Linked DNA regions of Homo sapiens. The protein of the gene in region 1 interacts with the protein of each later gene in a biochemical or structural test. Each region holds a gene or a part of one and is shown in the gene's direction. Other genes may lie near its edges. The genes, in order: NOSTRIN, FRMPD4 and HTRA3.

Evidence for each region.
Region 2: the proteins of NOSTRIN (region 1) and FRMPD4 interact in a test that uses a peptide from one of them, tested with the Homo sapiens proteins (one large-scale study listed by IntAct).
Region 3: the proteins of NOSTRIN (region 1) and HTRA3 interact in a test that uses a peptide from one of them, tested with the Homo sapiens proteins (one large-scale study listed by IntAct).

What each region holds. Positions count from the first base shown.
Region 1 is NC_000002.12:168,847,566-168,851,216, forward strand, and holds part of NOSTRIN (nostrin), read left to right. Parts: intron 1-3,270; coding exon of another isoform or gene 3,271-3,441; intron 3,442-3,518; coding exon 3,519-3,617; intron 3,618-3,651. UniProt on the Homo sapiens protein: Multivalent adapter protein which may decrease NOS3 activity by inducing its translocation away from the plasma membrane.
Region 2 is NC_000023.11:12,704,892-12,708,542, forward strand, and holds part of FRMPD4 (FERM and PDZ domain-containing protein 4), read left to right. Parts: intron 1-1,934; coding exon 1,935-2,024; intron 2,025-2,577; coding exon 2,578-2,760; intron 2,761-3,651. UniProt on the Homo sapiens protein: Positive regulator of dendritic spine morphogenesis and density. Required for the maintenance of excitatory synaptic transmission. Binds phosphatidylinositol 4,5-bisphosphate.
Region 3 is NC_000004.12:8,304,025-8,307,598, forward strand, and holds the end of HTRA3 (serine protease HTRA3 isoform 1 precursor), read left to right. Parts: intron 1-159; coding exon 160-255; intron 256-1,946; coding exon 1,947-2,112; 3' UTR 2,113-3,074; downstream 3,075-3,574. UniProt on the Homo sapiens protein: Serine protease that cleaves beta-casein/CSN2 as well as several extracellular matrix (ECM) proteoglycans such as decorin/DCN, biglycan/BGN and fibronectin/FN1.

The sequences.
Region 1 (3,651 bases):
GCCCAAAGGCTAGGACAGCAAGAACTGGAAGGAACGAATGAAGAACAAATTGTCATGATGCTTGGGCCCCAGACAGGCTCTAAATCTGCTGAAATCTGAATCTTTCTGGATAACTCCTTGACCACACTTTGTTCATATATACTATTGTGGAACCTCAAGAGGACAGTTTGAGGTCCTCCAGAGTATCTTGCTTCTCTACCACCTATTTTATATAAAAAGAACAAGATAATAAAAAGCAAAAAATCATTAGATATGGATCTCTCCTTTGCACAGTGGAATTTATTTCCTCCTCTTCTTATGAGCAAACATAGATCATTTTAATGATTTCCCTGAAATGTAATTAAAATCTGTTAAGCATTACCATGTCACTAAGGAACACTGGTTATTCTAGTCTCAGATTGATGCTAGTGGTTCAGCACTTGTCAAAGTAAAGAAACACCTGCCCACTAGGGATGCAATATGTTCTAAAACCTGGCTTTTATTTTCTCTTCTCTCTTGCTCATAGGCTAAAACAGAAGAGCTGATTTCTAGATCTTTTTCTATAGGGTAAGGACTTCTTCTTTTTGAAGATTGTCACATAGGAGATCCAAACAACTGAGCAGAATTTGTTTTACGTATTTGTTATGAGGCATATCGATTCTGCCTTTTAAGAAGCAAAACATTTGATAGGCTATTCTGTGTCTTTAATCCTTTATCTGGGAGACAGAAGGGCAGACGGCCACATTCAAATGACTGGTGCCTGCAATTTTGTGAAAGCCTCAGGGGACTGCCAGCGTAAACCAATCCATTTGACTCCCATTGACATATGAAAATTGGGCAGCTTCAGAGGCAACTAAGAAGATTGCCATGGGGGCGTGGCTCCAGGCTTCCAATCCAAATGTCAGGACACTTGATACAAAAGCTAAAGTTGCATGTGATTGGCACAGATGTTCATAGTTACTGCCTGAGCCTTTTACTACTTTCATTTGCAAGCAGTGTTCAAATGACTATATACCAAAAAACAAAATGTGGTATATGCATACCATGGAATATTATTCAGCCAAAAAGGAAGGGAATTCTGGCACATGCTACAACATGGATGAACCTTGCAGACATTATGCTAAGTGAAATAGCCAGATGCAAAAGAACAAGTAGTGTATGATTCCTCTTGTAAGAGGTATCAAGAGTAGTTAAATTTGTAGAGACAGAAAGTAGAATGGTGGTTGCCAGGGGATGCAGAGCGTAGGAAATGAGAAGTCGTTGTTTCATGGGTACGGTTTACTTTTGCAAGATGAAAAAAGTTTTAGAGATGAATTATGGTGGTGTTTGCATAATAATGTGAATGCACTTAATGACACTGAAATGGATGCCTAAGGTGGATAAAATGGCATGTCATATTATGTAAATTTTACCATAATTAAAAGTATAAAGAAATTTAAAATAATTTTAATCACCATATACCATAGATGAATTAACAACACAGGGATATAGAGGAATACCATACTGAATCAGGCCAATGGGCTCCTGTAGGAATTTCAAGAGGTGAGCAAGGAGAACCCAGTGATCTTTGTGACTCTCCATTCTCACCTCTCTTGCACTGCCAAGGGCCTTGAGACATACCCATCTTTCTTCTTCCCTATGGTCGTGTTACCCACCAACTTCTCCAAAGCCTTGTTCATGAAAGATGATTGCTGGTGCTCTTTGTGGGATGCAGGAGTTGGGATGGTGGGTATGAGAGCAACTGAGCTGGACTTCCCTGGATAAAAGGATGAATGCCCAGGCCTTGTATTTTTTCTTTCTTTCTTTCTCTTTCTTCTTTTCTTTTTTTTGAGATGGAATCTCACTCTTTTGCACAGGCTGGAGTGCAGTGGCATGATCTCAGCTCACTGCAACCACCACCTCCCAGGTCCAAGCGATTCTCCTGCCTCAGCCTCCTGAGTAGCTGGGACGACAGGCGCCCGCCACCAGGCCTGGCTAATTTTTGTATTTTTAGTAGAGACGGGGTTTTGCCACGTTGGGCAGGCTGGCCTTGAACTCCTGACCTCAGGTAGTTCACCCGTCTCGGCCTCCCAAAATGCTGGGATTATAGGCATGAGCCACCGCACCTAGCCAGGCCTTGTTTTTACAAAAAAAAAAAAAAAAAAAGATGGGAAGAATTTTGTCTTGGACACCTGCCATCTCCATCAAAGCCCAAAGTCCCCTGGGCACATACCCAGCAGCCTTACACTGCCCCCACATGGCCTTGGAGTCTCCCTGAATACTCTGCCTGAGCCAGCCTTCTCTAAGAATGCTTAGTTGCTAAAGCTTTCTGCCCCCTGTAAAACCACCAGTCAGCAACTCAGTTGGCATGGGTCCAATAAGTAACATTTTCTCATTTTTTTTTTTTTTTTGAGACAGTTTCACTTTTGTCACCCAGGCTGGAGTGCAGTAGCATGATCTCGGCTCACTGCAAACTTCACCTCCTGGGTTCAGGCAATTCTGCCTCAACCTCCTGAGTAGCTGGGATTACAGGCGTGTGCCACCATGCCTGGCTAATTTTTGTATTTTTAGTAGAGATAAGGTTTCACCATGTTGGCTGGGCTGGTCTCAAACTCCTGACCTCAGGTGATCCTCCCACCCTGGCCTCCCAACGTGCTGGGATTATAGGCATGAGCCACTGTGCCCGGCCTCTAAAATGTTAATAGCTAACAAAGCAAATGTGATTCCCCTCACTTTCTTATTTACCCTTCCTACCTAAAAGTCATAAGTCTAATAATGAAACTTCTGTCATCTCACACAAAATAAAGAGGCTATGTGTCTACCTGCAAACAGCGGACTCTGACTCCCAGGCCTAATTTTAGGCAGAATTATAAATTGGTCAGACTTTGGGATTCTTCTCTTGTCAAATAACCTCCTTAAACAGAGAATTTGTGGCCTGTCATTCTCTTCCCTGCAGACTAGCAGAACGCCTTGAATGTACTATAAACAATTCTAAAACTATTGGGTGTCTCAATGCATTTCCAAGACATGGATATGGGCTTTCCTGGGCTTCACCCTCTGGAATTCTTCCCAATTTTTTTTTTTTTTTTTTTGTAAAAACAAGGCCTGGCTAGGCGCGGTGGCTCATGCCTGTAATCCTAGCACTTTGGGAGGCCAAGACAGGTGGACCATCTGAGGTCAGGAGTTCAAGGCCAGCCTGCCCAACATGGTGAAACCCCATCTCTACTGAAATTCTCTGGAATTCTCTGGAATCCATGATTGTGTCTCAAATGCTTCCTTTTCTTCTTTTCTCCCCCTTCCTCATAAACTTAGGTAACCCACAGCATCTGCCTATATGCCTTTTGGGTCAAAAGAGCCTGGGGAAAGTGTGTGAGTGATTTAAGATACCAAGACACATTCCTTCCTGGAAATCTCCCTCCACTATGGTTTGGATATGACATAGTCAAGAGGCTAATCATGAGACTTTGTTCAGTCTGTCTTCAGGTGTGTCAGTGTTTGATGAGTGACTTCCATTTTGCATAACAACTGGCTGATCTTACCCCAATTTTCATTCTTTTCAGAGCATTCTGGAGCTGGAGAAGGAAAGAATTCAACTTTTATGCAATAACTTAAACCAGTACAGCCAACATATTTCTCTTTTTGGCCAAACCCTGACCACAGTGAGTAGAGATGATCTCTCCATTTCTGGTATGC
Region 2 (3,651 bases), on another chromosome or scaffold:
TTAAACCAGGGATCCTCAACTGTGGCGTAATTGACATTTGGGAACAGATCATTCTTTGTTAGGGAGTTACGGGGAACATCCTGTGTATTCTGGGATGTTTAGCGGCACCCCTGGTCTCTACCCACAAGATGCCAGTAGCACCCTCCCGTGATCGTGACAAACAAAAATGTCTCCAGACATTGCCAAATGTGCTCCCGGGAACAAAATCACCCCTATTGACAAACAATGGATTCAATCCTACCTTTGGAGGGAAGATAAAATTATTGCTGTCATTCACCATCATTAGTGTTAAAATCTTTTTATGCTTTTGTTTTTGTTTTCATTAAGTAAGAGAAACACAAAGGAAATTTTAAAATATACTGTTGGTCAGAAAAGAGAGGTATAGTTTATAGGTAATAAAAAGCAAAGGATTCCAGGAACCAGAAAGAGAAGGAGCCTTAAAATACTGGATCTATAAAATTGGAAGCAGTCTTATAACTGAAGAACACTTTCCAATTGATATTAGCTGGAGAAATTTGTGTGACTCTAATACAAATCACTGTTTACGTGGAGAACCATTTTGTCTTAGTATCTGATTTTTTTAAGTCATTTTTACTGGGTAAGGTACATTTATTTCTATCCCCTCCTCACCCCACGACAATTTTTTTTTTTAAGTATAATCAGTTTCAACACACTATCAGCCACCTTTAACTCACTTCCCAATTTCATGGGAAGGATGTCTTTGATCACAGTGAGCATTCAGCTTACAGAGATGTAGCAAGATGATGTGGGTCAAGTTCTTTTTAACTTCAGTTCTGATTTGCTGGAAGCTAATTTCTATAATTGACTTGTGATTTTTTTTTCAAGCCTGGCCCACTCGTAATAATTTGGATAACTGCTATAAGATCAATCAACCTATCCATTTATCCATCACTGTCCTTTAAAGGTTGTTTTTCTAGCCAAGAGTGAATAGTTTGCTTTCAAAACAATTTGCAAATGCTTTGCATTTTTGAAAGAAGTAGGATGGATGAATGGTGCTAAGTAACAATTACATAAAGAGCAGTGCCTTTATGTATAGTTAACAAATAAGTTGGCAAGCCATCTGCAAGTGAAAATAGAATTTTATGGTCATTGCCACTTAATGGTGGTCTACACCTTGTTGGAAAATTTCAACCTTAATAAACATCCCTGGCACATTCAGTATGAAACATGGACCTTTTTTTTTTTTAAATCAAATACTCTTTTTAGTGATATGGGATCCTACATTTTTAAGTCTTTGTAAAGATAACTTTTATCTGGATAAAATTTCATTTATAAATCACTTGTGAAACTCAACAGATTTTCCAAGTTGAATTAATAAAACAGAGCCTTATTTAGCAAGTTCAAACATTTCCACAATGATTGGCTCTCAGAAAGTTCATTTCCCCCGAAAACTTGCAAGGACTGGAAGAAACTTGAGAGGGGAAGTGTAAAGGGCCTGTTTAGAAGGCTTTGCCTAGATTGCAGGTGCGTATTCAAAATGATTCCCACAAAGTCTGCATTCAGGTGAGTCTCTTGTGCAATGGGAATATAGGTAGACACCTCACCTTTGTCCCTAATTGCAAGTAGAAGGCCCACTCACCTCTTGAAATCTCCCAGTGAGCAGATGTTCAATGGAACATTTTATGGTCTTGTTCTCACTTGCTGAGTGCCCTGGCCCAGCATATCTATACCCATGAGTGCCCCATACATTGACCCCCTAATAAATAAGATTTGAATCTTGATTTTATGTTCCAGTCCTTCATCAGGAAACCAAATATGTAGCAATTTTATTCCTAATGAATAGTCTTTGTCACATCTCAACTTTTCAGCCGTAAAATCATCCTTCTATCTTACACTTGTTTTCTGCTAGTCTCCAGCTGAAATGGAGTCATACCCAATAGAGTTAACACCTGAGGTTTCTTTTCTCTCCTCAGCTCTCTGCACTACAAGCCAAGGTCCATTATCTCAAGTTCCTCAGTGACCTACGATTGTATGGGGGCCGTGTGTTCAAGGCAACATTAGTGGTAATTTCTTTTTTTTTTTTTTTTTTGCTTTCTCTTGGAAGCCACAGCAGCTCATTCCGCCTCTGATGACAAAAGCAAATCAGCTGTGAATCTTCTCCAGCCTTCATTTCTAACCAACTTCACAACAGTCTGAAAATATCAGAAGAAATGTTAAACTAGATAACACCACTGCAGAATGCCCTAGAAAAAGAAATGTGAAGAACCGAGAGAATCAAAGGATTCTAACAATGGCCTTCTTTTAAATCATTGAGCCAGAAGTTGCTTTCACAGTGAAAAAAGGAAAACCAAAAAGAAAAAAACAAACCTCATTTCTAAAAGGATCTTATGATTATGAACATACTGTGCTATAACATTTACTTTCTAATTACTCATGATTTATCAGAGCCTCAATTCAGTCATGTATCTGGTTCTTCTAATTGGATGATTTAGTACAGTATGACCCAGAAACACTTTCTAAAGAAAATATAATCTTATAAAAATAGGATCATAGGTTCAAGTTGGCATAGCATTTCAGAGGTTCAGTATTTTTATGTTGTCAACTTCTCTTTCTCAGCAGGCAGAAAAGCGCTCGGAAGTGACTCTCCTGGTTGGGCCCCGGTATGGCATAAGCCATGTCATCAACACCAAAACCAATCTGGTGGCTCTTTTAGCCGACTTTAGCCACGTCAACAGGATCGAAATGTTTTCCGAGGAGGAGAGCTTGGTGCGGGTAGAACTCCACGTGCTAGATGTGAAGGCAAGTTTCTCAGGTGTTGACACATGGCCTTGCTGTCAACAGCTAATTTCTGATAACACTGCAGATGTTTACAAGGCAGGCAAAAGTCAATGTGTGCAGAGCATCACAGATGCAATGTGGTGCAGAAAATAATCCACCAACTCAGGCCTGAGGGCTCCAGTCCTCACTAAATCGCTGTGTGATTGGGAACAGGTCGCTATAATTCTCTGCGCTCAATTTTTTTATTCATACGTGAGAAAGCAAGCTACATAATTTCTAGGTCCCTTCTGACTTTAGAATATGTGATTTCTAGGTATAGAGTAGGGGAAACTTTTCTGAACTAACTTTCTAGAATATATGACTCAAATCAAGAGGGAGATTTTTCCCAACTTTCTTTAGAATTCTCACTCCCTTTGCTTACGTTAGGTCCATATGTGTTTATTCTTTTGGAAAAGCTTGATGTTTTAGTTCATCTGTCTTCTCATATGGTAGCAATTGGTACTGACTGAACATCTGGCTCCTATGAATGTCATGGCCATTCCATTTAAAACAAAAATCTGGCCAGGTGCGGTGGCTGATGCCTGTAATCTCAGCACTTTGGGAGGCCGAGGCGGGCGGATCACGAGGTCAAGAGTTCAAGACCAGGCTGACCAACATGGTGAAACCCCATCTCTACTAAAAATACAAAAATTAGCCGGGCGTGGTGGCGTGCACCTGTAATCCCAGCTACTCAGGAGGCTGAGGCAGGAGAATTGCTTGAACCCAGAGGTGGAGGTTCCAGTGAGCCGAGATCGTGCCATTGAACTTCAGCCTGGGTAACAGAGCGAGACTCCATCTCAAAAAAAAAAAAAAAACACAAAAATCTGAGATGGTCCACAAAGGGCAAAACTCTACTCCCAAAAGAGAATAGGA
Region 3 (3,574 bases), on another chromosome or scaffold:
GGTAGGGGACACAGAGTGGCCAGTGGTGGGACAGGGCAGTATGGGGGCCCAGAGGTGGCTCCTCTTCTGGTCTGGTGCTGGAGGGAGGGAGGGGCAGCTTCATACCAAAGAGCTGGGCAAAGGCTCAGGGGAGGGGCCTTGACGGCAGACTCTTTCCAGCCTGGTGGATGAGCTGAAGGCCAGCAACCCGGACTTCCCAGAGGTCAGCAGTGGAATTTATGTGCAAGAGGTTGCGCCGAATTCACCTTCTCAGAGGTAGGCTCTGCCAGAGGAGATCGCTCGAGGCATGGGGCAGGCGTGAGGTCTGGGCTGGGGCTGCCCCACTGACCTCATGTGACCTTGAGCTTCCCAGCAAAGTGACCGGGAAGGGGCAGGTGGATTCTAGCGTGTCTGCTAAGCCAGAGGAGGCTGGAGAGCTGAATGGTCCCTAGAGCCCTGACTGTGTACGTCCTAAGTCCCACAATGTCATTTCCTTCGAGAAGCAGAGGCTGAAGAGTCCCTGTTGGGCTAAGAACCCACTCCAAGCCAGACTCTTTCACTAGCTGGGGACCAGCCTGGGTCCTGGGTCTTTCTGGGACTCAGCTTCCTCATTGTAAAGTGGAGATAATTCAGCCTATTGTTTTTTTTTTTTTTTTTTTTTTTTTTTTTTTGAGACAGTCTCCCTCTTGTTGCCCAGCCTGGAGTGCAGTGTCGCGATCTCAGCTCACTGCAACCTCTGCCTCCTGGGCTCAAGCGACTCTCCTGCCTCAGCCTTCTGAGTAGCTCAGATTACAAGTGCCCACCACCATGCCCTGCTAATTGTTTTTGTATTTTTAGTAGAGAAGGGGTTTCACCACGTTGGCCAGGCTAGTCTTGAACTGCTGACCTCAGGCGATCCACCTGCCTTGGCCTCCCAAAGTGCTGGGATTTCTACCCCCAGGAGACTTTGTAGATGAAATGGATAAAGGATTGCTTTCTTTGAAGTCTTCCAGTACTAGAGAAATGTTAAGCATTGCAACACCATAGGCTGAGGCAGGCGTGCAGCGACACTACCACATGCTGGCATGGCTGACCCACTCCCAAGAAGGGCTCTGAACCAGTTGCCTCCCCTCCTTAGCCTCGGTCTTCATCTGCAGTGGGAAAAATCCACATATAAGTGGACCCACACAGTTCAGACCCATGTTGTTCAAGGGCCGACTGTACTGTGCATCCTCAGAGGCTGGGCTTGAAGGTGGGAGGCCCCGCGTGAACTTCTGTGATGAGCACAGATGGCACACTTGTCCTGCCCGCAGCAGGCCTGCAGTAAAAATTGTTGAAATTGGGTGAAATTTTCCACACACATCTCAGTTAATCCTCACTGCAGCCAGGGAGGTGCAGGCTCCTGCCCTCACCCATTTTACAGGTGGAGGGACTGAGGTTTAGAGAAGTTACTCTTCCAGGTCACACAGCTGGCATGTGAGGGTCCTGATGCTGGTGCCCACGCAGCTGAGCACAGTACCATCACCTTCCTTCCCAGCAGTGGGGAGGTCTCAGTGAGCCTCATGCAGAGAGAAGGCTGGCCCCGTGAGCTCTGCCTCCCACATAGACGTCTTCGTAACTGCAGTAACAGCAGAACCTACTCCTGGGCCTTTATAATTTGCAAAGTGCGTTTCCACATAGGATGGTAGACATGAAAACTGAGGCACAAGGGGACAGAGTGCCTGGCCCAGCTAGGAGGGCTGCAGCGGGAGCTTGAACCCACCCTTCTGACGCATGGGAGAAGCAGTTTGAAAGGTTGTTTCCCTGTCGTGTGACATTGGTTTTCTTCTGGTGTGAGAGCTTTGGGGCTGGGGCACTGTTCTTTCCCATCGAGATGACTTTTGTTGAAATGTTGTCATTGACCCTGACTGTGCCTCGCTCTGGGCCGGGCCTGGGAAGGCTGTGCCTGGGGAGGCGGTGGGTGGTGACCCCGTCTCTCCTGTTGGCAGAGGCGGCATCCAAGATGGTGACATCATCGTCAAGGTCAACGGGCGTCCTCTAGTGGACTCGAGTGAGCTGCAGGAGGCCGTGCTGACCGAGTCTCCTCTCCTACTGGAGGTGCGGCGGGGGAACGACGACCTCCTCTTCAGCATCGCACCTGAGGTGGTCATGTGAGGGGCGCATTCCTCCAGCGCCAAGCGTCAGAGCCTGCAGACAACGGAGGGCAGCGCCCCCCCGAGATCAGGACGAAGGACCACCGTCGGTCCTCAGCAGGGCGGCAGCCTCCTCCTGGCTGTCCGGGGCAGAGCGGAGGCTGGGCTTGGCCAGGGGCCCGAATTTCCGCCTGGGGAGTGTTGGATCCACATCCCGGTGCCGGGGAGGGAAGCCCAACATCCCCTTGTACAGATGATCCTGAAAGTCACTTCCAAGTTCTCCGGATATTCACAAAACTGCCTTCCATGGAGGTCCCCTCCTCTCCTAGCTTCCCGCCTCTGCCCCTGTGAACACCCATCTGCAGTATCCCCTGCTCCTGCCCCTCCTACTGCAGGTCTGGGCTGCCAAGCTTCTTCCCCCCTGACAAACGCCCACCTGACCTGAGGCCCCAGCTTCCCTCTGCCCTAGGACTTACCAAGCTGTAGGGCCAGGGCTGCTGCCTGCCAGCCTGGGGTCCCTGGAGGACAGGTCACATCTGATCCCTTTGGGGTGCGGGGGTGGGGTCCAGCCCAGAGCAGGCACTGAGTGAATGCCCCCTGGCTGCGGAGCTGAGCCCCGCCCTGCCATGAGGTTTTCCTCCCCAGGCAGGCAGGAGGCCGCGGGGAGCACGTGGAAAGTTGGCTGCTGCCTGGGGAAGCTTCTCCTCCCCAAGGCGGCCATGGGGCAGCCTGCAGAGGACAGTGGACGTGGAGCTGCGGGGTGTGAGGACTGAGCCGGCTTCCCCTTCCCACGCAGCTCTGGGATGCAGCAGCCGCTCGCATGGAAGTGCCGCCCAGAGGCATGCAGGCTGCTGGGCACCACCCCCTCATCCAGGGAACGAGTGTGTCTCAAGGGGCATTTGTGAGCTTTGCTGTAAATGGATTCCCAGTGTTGCTTGTACTGTATGTTTCTCTACTGTATGGAAAATAAAGTTTACAAGCACACGGTTCTCAGCCAGCAGGGCACTGGGGCAGCCTACCCACCACTGGCCAGGGTTCTTCCTGGGGACCCATCTAACACATGACTGGGCATACCTGCAAAGACACGGGCCTTTAAAGGGTTTCTATGACAGCTGAGCACTGGGGCACACCAGGTCTCGGGGTCATGTGGCGCTGTGGAGGGCCAGCTCCGAGTCAGGCAGCCCGGCTCAAGTCCTGGCTCCTCCGCTTACTTCCGGCTTCGTGGTCTTGGGCAAGAGATGTTCCCCTCCCTACCTTGGCCTCTGCCTCTGTCCAGCAGGAAGGCTGGCTCTGCTGTGCTGACCTCCTGGATGCCCTGGGATGCAAGGTGACAGATGCAGCACTTGGGAAGCCACCCGGCTTACGGGGAGCTCCCACTAAGCCCCACTGTGCACGTCTGGTCACATGAAGAACCCTTTCTCACATCTATTTCACCCTCCCTGCCACCCATCCAGCGATGGGGAAACTGAGGCAGAGAGCAATTT